Homo sapiens: one gene and its partner. The protein of the gene in region 2 purifies or fractionates together with the protein of the main gene of each other region. This does not show direct contact. Each region holds a gene or a part of one and is shown on either strand. Other genes may lie near its edges.

Evidence for each region.
Region 1: the proteins of RASL11B (region 2) and BPIFB1 purify together in Homo sapiens (affinity purification with mass spectrometry; one large-scale study listed by BioGRID and IntAct). This does not show direct contact.

The regions. Positions count from the first base shown.
Region 1 is NC_000020.11:33,307,214-33,310,371, reverse strand, and holds the end of BPIFB1 (BPI fold-containing family B member 1 precursor), read right to left. Parts: intron 665-3,158; coding exon 605-664; 3' UTR 501-604; downstream 1-500. UniProt on the Homo sapiens protein: May play a role in innate immunity in mouth, nose and lungs. Binds bacterial lipopolysaccharide (LPS) and modulates the cellular responses to LPS.
Region 2 is NC_000004.12:52,860,085-52,865,889, reverse strand, and holds the start of RASL11B (ras-like protein family member 11B), read right to left. Parts: upstream 3,574-5,805; 5' UTR 3,383-3,573; coding exon 3,241-3,382; intron 2,623-3,240; coding exon 2,566-2,622; intron 1,413-2,565; coding exon 1,336-1,412; intron 556-1,335; coding exon 85-555; 3' UTR 1-84.

The DNA.
Region 1 (3,158 bases), on a different chromosome or scaffold from region 2:
CCATGTATCTGGAACTGTTCTCTCATTTACTCCTCACCAAAGCCCTCCAAGGCAGAGACAATGACTATCCCCATTTTACGGAGAAGGAAACTGAGGCCCACAGAGGGGAAACTACATCCCAGAGTCAAAGAAGCATTAAGAGGCCAGCCAGAGCTCCAAGCCTAGTTCATCTGCCCCCAGATCCACATTGTTCAGAGAGTCCTCTGTCCACCACACTGCCAAGATAAACAAAACATATGTCCCCCACCCTAAAAGCCATCCCACTGAAGATGGTCTTGAGGCTGACATGAAGGCAGGTGGGAAGAGCTGGCTTTCTGATTCCTGAAGCACAGGGAGGTGGTCAAGACTGTGGACATCATCCACATGTGGCCCAGACATCACCCAGATTGGCTCAGATGTGCCTGAACATGACCCAGGTGTGGCTCAGCCATCCAGTCCCCAAGCCTGCCAGGGGCAAAATGACTCCTGTGCCGGGACAAAGAGACTCCAGACGGCAGGCATCACAGGCAAGTGTTTATTGATTGCAGAGAGGGATGGTCTATAGAGCTCACACCCATACTCCCAGCTGGGACCCAGCCTTCCCTGATGGCTGCCATCCAAGTCTTCACTGGGAGACAGGAGAGCTGGGTTTCCACAAGGAGGCTGGAGTAAGCACAAGGGCATCCTGGAATTGGAGGGGAAAAGTCAGAAAACAGGTTTCTTTAACCTTTTGCCTTGTGGTTTATGCTGGTTTTGTCCTCCATAAGGTGACTGCTGGCACCGGGGGACCATGACCCTGAACCCACAAATACAGAATTCTTAGAAGGGTCGGGGTGGAGGGTCTGTGTGTGAACATTAATGCCACACCAGGTCCTGATGTCATCTCCATTTTGCAGATGGGGACACTGAGACTTGAAGATGGCAAAAGCCCCTTTCCAAAGTCACGCACTCAGTAGGTGGCAGAAGTGGGATTTGCACTTAGCACCCGCCTTGATCACCCCCTGCTTTGGGCCCCTCCTCTGCATGAGCTAATGACAGTAAGGTGTCCATCTCAGTTAGCAGGCATTTACTAAACACCTACTGTGTGCAGCCACTGATCACAACAGAGAACAAAGCAGACAGAAACCCCTGCCTTCTTGAAGTTTTGGCTCCACTCTAGAGGGGGAGAGATGCCCCAGAGCCTGGCACACAGTGACTGTGAGCTGTTCTTCTTAAGGGTAGTATTTGGGAGCGAGGGTGACACTGCCATAGATCCTCTCCCCAGCAGATGCCACGGAGAGTCATTTGCTCACCAAGCATTTATTGAACACCTACTGTGTGCCAGGCCATGCTGAGCACCGGGGACAGAGGCATGGACAAGATGGACATGATCCTGGCCTTGAGCTGAGACCATCTGGCCACATGGTGTGTGTGTGTGTGTGTATGTGTATGTGCATGTGTAGTGTGTGTATGTGTGTATATGTGTATGTGTGCGTCTCTGTGTATGTGTGTGTATGTATGTGTGTATGTGTGTGGTGTGTGTGTAGTGTGTATGTGTGTGGTGTGTGTATTATGTGTGTGTGTATGTGTGTGTGTAGTGTGTATGTGTGTGGTGTGTGTATTATGTGTGTGTGTGTAGTGTGTATGTGTGTGGTGTGTATGTGTGCAATATGTATGTGTGTGTGTATGTATATGTATAGGTGTATAAAGGTGTGTGTGTGTATGTATGTGTATAAAGGTGTATGTGTTTGTATGTGCGTGTGTATGTATGTGTATAGGTGTATAAAGGTGTGTGTGTGTATGTATGTGTATAAAGGTGTATGTGTTTGTATGTGCGTGTGTATGTATGTGTATAGGTGTATAAAGGTGTGTGTGTGTATGTATGTGTATAAAGGTGTATGTGTTTGTATGTGCGTGTGTATGTATGTGTATAGGTGTATAAAGGTGTGCGTGTGTGTGTGTATATGTGTGTGTGCATGCATGCATCTCAGGCCTATGAGGTTACCTGCCTTGGATGTTGCCTCAGATCCTGGGCCTCCTTCCTCATCTTTCCTGGAACACCAACAATCCCTGCCTCAGGGCCTTTGCACTTGACATCTGATATGGTTTAGATCTGTGTCCCCGCCCAAATCTCATGTAGAACCCAATGTTGGAGGTGGGGTCTAAGCTGATTGGATCATGGGGCTGGTTTCTTGTGAATGGTTTAGCGCCATCCTCTTGGTGCTGTTCTCGTGATGGTGAGTGTGCTCTTGTGAGATCTGGTTGTTTAAAAGTGTGTAGCACCTCCCACCCCTTGCTCCTGCTTGGGCCATGTGATGTGCAGTCTTCCCCTTTGCCTTCCGCTATGATTGGAAGTTTCCTGAAGCCTCCCCAGAAGCTGAGCAGATGCCAGCATCGTGTTTCCTGTACAGCCTGCAGAACCACAAGCCAATTAAACCTCTTTTCTTCATGAATTACCCAGTCTCAGGTATTTATTTTCTTTCCTTTTTTTTTTGGGGGGGGGATGGATTTCACTCTTGTTGCCCAGGCTGGAGTGCAATGGCGTGATCTCAGGTCACTGCAACCTCCGCCTCCTGGGTTCAAGCAATTCTTCTGCCTCAGCCTTCCGAGTAGCTGGGATTACAGGTACCCGCCATCACGCCCAGCTAATTTTTGTATTTTTAGTAGAGACTGGGTTTTGCCATGTCGGCCAGGCTGGTCTCGAACTCTTGACCTCAGGTGATCTGCCCACCTTGGCCTCCCAAAGTGCTGGGATTATAGGCACAAGCCACTGAGCCCAGCCTCAGGTATTTCTTTATAGCAGTGTGAGAACGGCCTAATACGCTGTCCCTCTGACGGGACACTTCTCCCAGCTACCCACAGGGCTCACCCCTCACCTCCTCAGGCATTGGCTCAAATGTTACCTCCTCAGAGAGGCCCTCCCTGGCCACCCCATCTGAAACAGCACCCCCTTCCCTGACATCACTCTCTCCTCCTGAGCCTGCTTTATTTTTCTTCTCAGCCTTCCTCCACTCAGCCTGATGTTACATCTTTAGGGCTTGTGTATCTGCCTCTTCTGCTAAAAGGTAGGCTTGAAAAAGATGGGAGTGTTTTCCATTTGTTCATTTCGGTGGCCTCAAGCACTCAGAAGCATGGCTTGCCTATAGAAGACCCTCGAAAAATATTTAGTGAATTACTGAATGAATGAATGAATGAATGAA
Region 2 (5,805 bases):
TGCCAATATTCAACGTTCCTGCACTAGGAGAACCTCAGGCCCTCTTCCTGGGAAGACCAAACCCCCTTGAGTGCTCCTCCTGCTTCAGACGGAGGTGACAGTCCTCACTTTGGCAGAGAGGGCTTGCTTAAACCTCCTCTTCAGGTCCTGCATGTTGGGTGACTTGGGCCTGGGAATGAGGGAGGTTCTTCGCTTCTCGGGTGTACTGCTAGGCTGCTGTTTGTGACTGACCTCTTTACAGAGGACGTGGAAGGCGCTGTAGACATCATTATAATTTTCACTGACAGACACTTCATAGAATGAGCAGCCTAGCATGCTGGCTAGCTGCAGTCCAAGCTGAGGGTCAACCTGTTTGATGTGCAACAGGTCAGCTTTGTTGGCCACGACCACCACAGGCAGCCGGGTGCCCAGGTGTAGCTGCTGCACGTGCTGGTGGAGCTGGCTGATGAGTTCATAGCTCTTGTAGTCAGTGATGGAGAAAACGATCACCACAGCATCTGCCCAGCGAATGCACCTATTCAGCTGTTCACTGCAGCTCAGGCTGTTCTCATGGACCTGAAAGAGAGGAGTGATGGCAAGGTGAATGCTGGCCAGTTGTACAAAGAGCCTGGGCTTGGGTAGATTTCAAATTCAAAAGAGCCCTTCATAGTAGTGCCAGGTTGAGGGCCATAAACAACTTATATCCCACACACTTCAGCTTTCTTGACAATATGTTGATCCAGCTGCACAGAGTGGGAATAAATAACAGTGCAGCTTACCACACTCAAGTGGAAAATTGACCTGCAGAGAACTCCATGCAGAGCGACTTTGTAGTTGCACAAAATGGGAAATTAACTGGCTAGACAGTAAGTCTGGGGAAGTAAAGATAGGAGCTGGAAGCATTTAAACCTGGATAACTGCCCAGTTCAGGAGGCGGGGGGAAAAACCCTAGCATGGCGCTTTTGTCTATAGAGCAACTTTCCAGTACAAAAGCGATTCCAAGTATTTGCAGACTATACCCAGAAGCTTGGTTTTTCATGCCAAAGACACACATATTAAAACTGGACTTTTAAACCACAGCAAGGAAAACACCAATTCCAACTGCATTCGGTTTGGGCTTTCCGGCTGTGTTGAATCCTTCTAAAGGAAGATTTCTGCCCCCTAGCCAAATCTCCCAAACTAAACCATGCTAAGATCGACCAACAGCCAGATACAATTGAATTGTCAGACATGTAAAAGTCTAGATGTGACTCCCCAAATTTCTCTGATCCTGCAGCATGAGGAACTTTGAGAAGAAGTGAGTGATTCCACAGCCAAGTAGGTTCCCCTTTCACCCAGAGTCTCAGAGCTTCTCACCTGAATACCTGGAGTGTCTTGAACCTGAAGAGCCAGGGTTTCACCTTCTATCTGAACTTGTCTAGTATAGAGATTACCTATGAAGGCAAATAAAAGAGATTATGTTCTTCCTTCTTGTACAACTTTTAAAACATTGTGAGTTTTAAGCTAGAAAAAAAATGCACAATGCATAAATGCACACAAAACAGCGATAGTTTATTTCTATTTGGTGGGCTTACTTCAGATTTTTTTTAAAAAACAACAGCAATTTTAACCCTATGTTAGATTTATTAAAACCAGGGCAAAGTTTGCAAGTTTTTGAAAACTTATTTATCTAGTTTTAAACAAAGTTTCCATTTTTAGAGTACTCCCTTGATGCAAATTATCTTGCTCAGCCTATGTGAGGTTTCTGTTTTCTTGAGTACTTGATTCATTCTTTGACTGTAACTTTGTATTTTGGCCGTTAGATATAATGGCTTGCTAGACAAATACTGTTAGTAAACACACAGCCAATGTTATCAGTTGGAATAAAAATGTGATATAATTATAATCAACTCTACATCAAATCAGAAGGCTGCCATGTCTTATCTTGGGATAGCTTATACAGCTCATTTCAAATAATCCCCTATAGGTACTCATATGGTCTACAGAGTTAAGCAATTTGCTAACAGAGCATAGGCAGAAAGCTCTTAAGCCTCCCCAGTGGCTATTCTTAATCATAAGGATTGAAAAATGTGTCCTCTCATTTATTCGGGAATTCTCCTCCTAAAATTCTACCATCCAGTTGTTTGTCTTTGTTAAGAAGGAGGAACTTTAGGTTTACAACTGCTCTCCTTTGGCCTTTGCTTTAAAAGGTCACCTCTGAAAGGCAGCCAGCAGAGAAGGAGAGGGGTGGGGGAAGGAGCTAGGGACTCCTTTTTTTTTTTTTTACGACTTTTGCAGGAGTGTTTTGAAGGGAGAGGTTCTTGACTACAAAGGGTGCTTCCAACTGGGGTCACTATAGTTAAAACATACCAAGGGGAATACTTTCAGGCACTTGATAAAATGATGAATGGGCTTGGAATGGAATGAGGCCAGATGGTAGTTATGGGAGGGGGGCGCCATGGAGGGCTGGGGACTGGGGAAAGTTTTAAGTGGCGGGATCCTCAGGCTCGGACTGTCACTGAAAGAACCTCCCTGGGAAGCGCTGGAAAATGGGAACCGCAGTCCTCCTGCAATGGGACAGAATTTTTCTCAAATGCATTGTCTCACCTGCATTTCTTTCATAGTCACCGATGAATCGTTTGGTGAGGAACCGGACCACCAGTGCTGCACGTCAGAAAAAAGAACGTCAAAGTGTTAACCTTGGAAGTTAGATTGTTCTCCACCCCACCCCCTGCCTGGAAAACAGTTCTCCCAAAGAAAGCCATAGATGGCCACCAAGTGAAATTCCTACCCTGTAGCTCCTTGACCCTTCTTTCCAGACAAAAAGGAGGGGGCTAGAAGGCATCGTGAATTATGGCTCTGTGCAGCTGGAAGGCTCACTGGGCCCACCCCCTCCTCTGAGCCCGGCTGAGCCACACCTAAGCCTTCCAGTAGACCCATGTCTTCCTAACCTTCAAGACCTCCCAGGGGGGCTAGCTTCACTAACTCCCCTTTCTGTGCCAGGCATTGCCAGAGGCTCAAACACCCCAAAGTTCTGATGGCGGCGGTGCCGGTGGTCCCCAGAAAGCTGCCTGGCCATTCTTGATCCTTGTTTCCCCCGTCTGTGGAAGCAGGCGGGTGGCGTAGACAACGGCTAAGCCCACTCCCAAGGGGCAGCGGCTCCCTGCGCGGGGACGGAGAGCGGTCGGGCTGCAGCTCCCACCGCTCCCCACGCCTTGTTCAGCCTCAACTCCCGTCAGGGGTCGTCCAAGACCAGACCCAGGGCTAAGCGCGACGACTCACCGGTCTTGCCCACGCCGCTGGCGCCCACCACGGCGATCTTGACCAGGCGGCGGCCGGCGGCGCCCACACAGCAGTCGGAGGCCGCGGCGTTGCCCGGCGCGGGGTACTCGGCGATGGTGCACATGTTCTGAATGAGGCGCATCGCCTCGGCTGCGGCGCACCGCGCGGGAAGGGACTGAGGGACTGGAGAATGCTAGCGCTGCGCGGGAGCGGGCGGGAGGACCCGACTGCGGGGCTCCGCGGTAAGAAATAACAACAATAAATAAGTGCAGGTACGGGCGGGGTGGGGCCGAGCGCCGAGGTTCCGCAGGGCTCAGGCTCCAGACCCAGACTGCACTCGCGCGGCGCGCCGGCTGTTTTCTCCGCGGCCGGCCCCGCCCCCTCTCCCCACAGCCAATCCCGGGGCGCCCTACACGAGGCCCCGCCCCCGGCGCCGCTCCGCGCGCGCGACGCCCCCGGAGGCGCCTGGAGTCAGTGCGGAGCCCCGTGAGGCGCGGGGAGAAGAGGCAGCGGGCGGAGGGGAGCAGCGGGTGGTCCGAGGCGGCGCAGCCCAGGGTGGGCGCCTGGTAGGTCCTGCCGCGCGAGCATGGGGCAGCTGCTGTGGCTGCGGGGCCAGGAAGAGAGCGCAGCCTCCACAGAGCCATTCCGGACCGCTGCCTCCGCCGGCTCCACAGCCCACGCGCGCACTCGCTGCAGCCCCAACCTAGGGCGTCTGCTCTGGGCGGGCCGGGAGCGGTGTTTGCTCCCCGGCTTAGTGCCGCCCGCCCTGATTTGGAGCGATTGCACTGGCTTGGGTACATCCCAGCTCATAGATTCAGCTACAGTTGGCAATCATCCGCAAAGACTCCAGCCTAAGACCTTTAGACCCCCGTAAAATGTGACATTTGAAGCAAAAATATCATCCACGTTTTATCCTAGACCCACGTTCTCTGGCTCTTGTCGACGGCGCAAGCTAACGCAAACACACATGGTCGGACGCATGCACAGCACGCCTAGAAGCGGATCAAGAAGTAATTATAGAACAAGCTTTCCAGCGCCTCACTCAGTCACACCTCCTTCAAGAGCTGTGAAATGGAAAGAAAACAGTTACTCCAGCTGCGACGTCTGAAGGGGCCCCGCACTTCGTCCCTGGTCATAAGACACCGCAAGAGTTTAGTTAAGTGGCTTGATACCAAGGAAGAGGTGGGCCCTGCACTCCTAAAATCCCAAGCTCCGGCCCCTTACAGTCTCATCTGAGAAACACATCTTCAACGGCAGGCCAAATTCCTCCTGCGAGCAACATTCTGTAGCTGCAGCTGATGGCAAGATGTCACCAGCGGCTGATGGCAAAATGTCACCAGAGTCGCGGGTTAACCACCCCATCCGCTATCCAAGGCCCTCTCCCCGCTACCCTTTCAACCTTGTCCCAGAGGCTTTTATGTTGGGGTATGGCAACAAACTCTGTGGCTTTGTGTACCCACCCACATTAAAGGCTAAAATGTGAAATAAACCAGTGCCCTTATCCGCACATGTCAGTCATCTAATTTGACCCCCTCTTCCAGCCAGAACTTAATTGACCAGGTATTTGACAGAATTTTATGATCCTCAGCCAGTTCAGACTCTGAGATGAACCTCTTGTCTACAGAGGTTTAGGTGTTTGCAGGAATGCAAGGAGAAATAGAAAGGTAATCTCAAGGTAGCAAGTTTTCTAGGATGGGCCACGTAATTAGAAAGACACACAACCTTACAATAAACATAATAAAAGGCTGACTTCTAGGGAGATCACTAGAACGAAACAGCCATTTGAGTCAGAAAGAAAAAGCATTTCCAATATGCACCATGTCTTTCTGCATGGTTTAAATCAGACTTGAATGTCACTTCTATAAAATCAAACTTTGCAAGACTGTAATTACAGGTAACCATGTACTTTTAAAATCTTTCCCCTCCAAAAAGCCTGCTATTCTATCATGCTTACATGGTAAAATAATGATGTAGGCTAAAGTACTAGTTTAACATACACACACACACACACACACACACACACACACAGAGACATGACAAAAGCTGTCAAGGGGAATTTTGCTTTGAATCATTTAGTTTCTTGGGCTTGATTTTCATTACCATAAGCCCATACAAAACCCGTGATTTTTCTGTCTGCAACGCAAAGGCTTGATTTGGTGTTCTTATTTTAGATCTAAATGATCTGGCTATGCTTTAAAGAACACAGAAAAGAGAGAAGCAAGAGAAAGATGTAAAAAAGAAAAGAGAGCTATTCAAATTCCAAATACCTAGCATATAGCCCATCTCCACTCCACCTACCTCTCCTTCTGGGACATTCATAGAGTTAAAAAGAGGAAGGAGGCAAGGCAGGAGAAGTGACGATACATAATGAGCGCTTGTTTCATTCTAGGTTGTACACAGGGGTTTTGCATTTAAAAATCTCATTTTACCTTCATAACAGTCCTATGAGGTAGGTATTACCATTACTTCTAGTTGCCGTTATCTATTGCTGCTTAGTAAACCACCCCAAACTTTAGTGGCTCGCAGTTCTGTGTGTTGACTAGGCTTAGCTGGGGAGTGCTTACC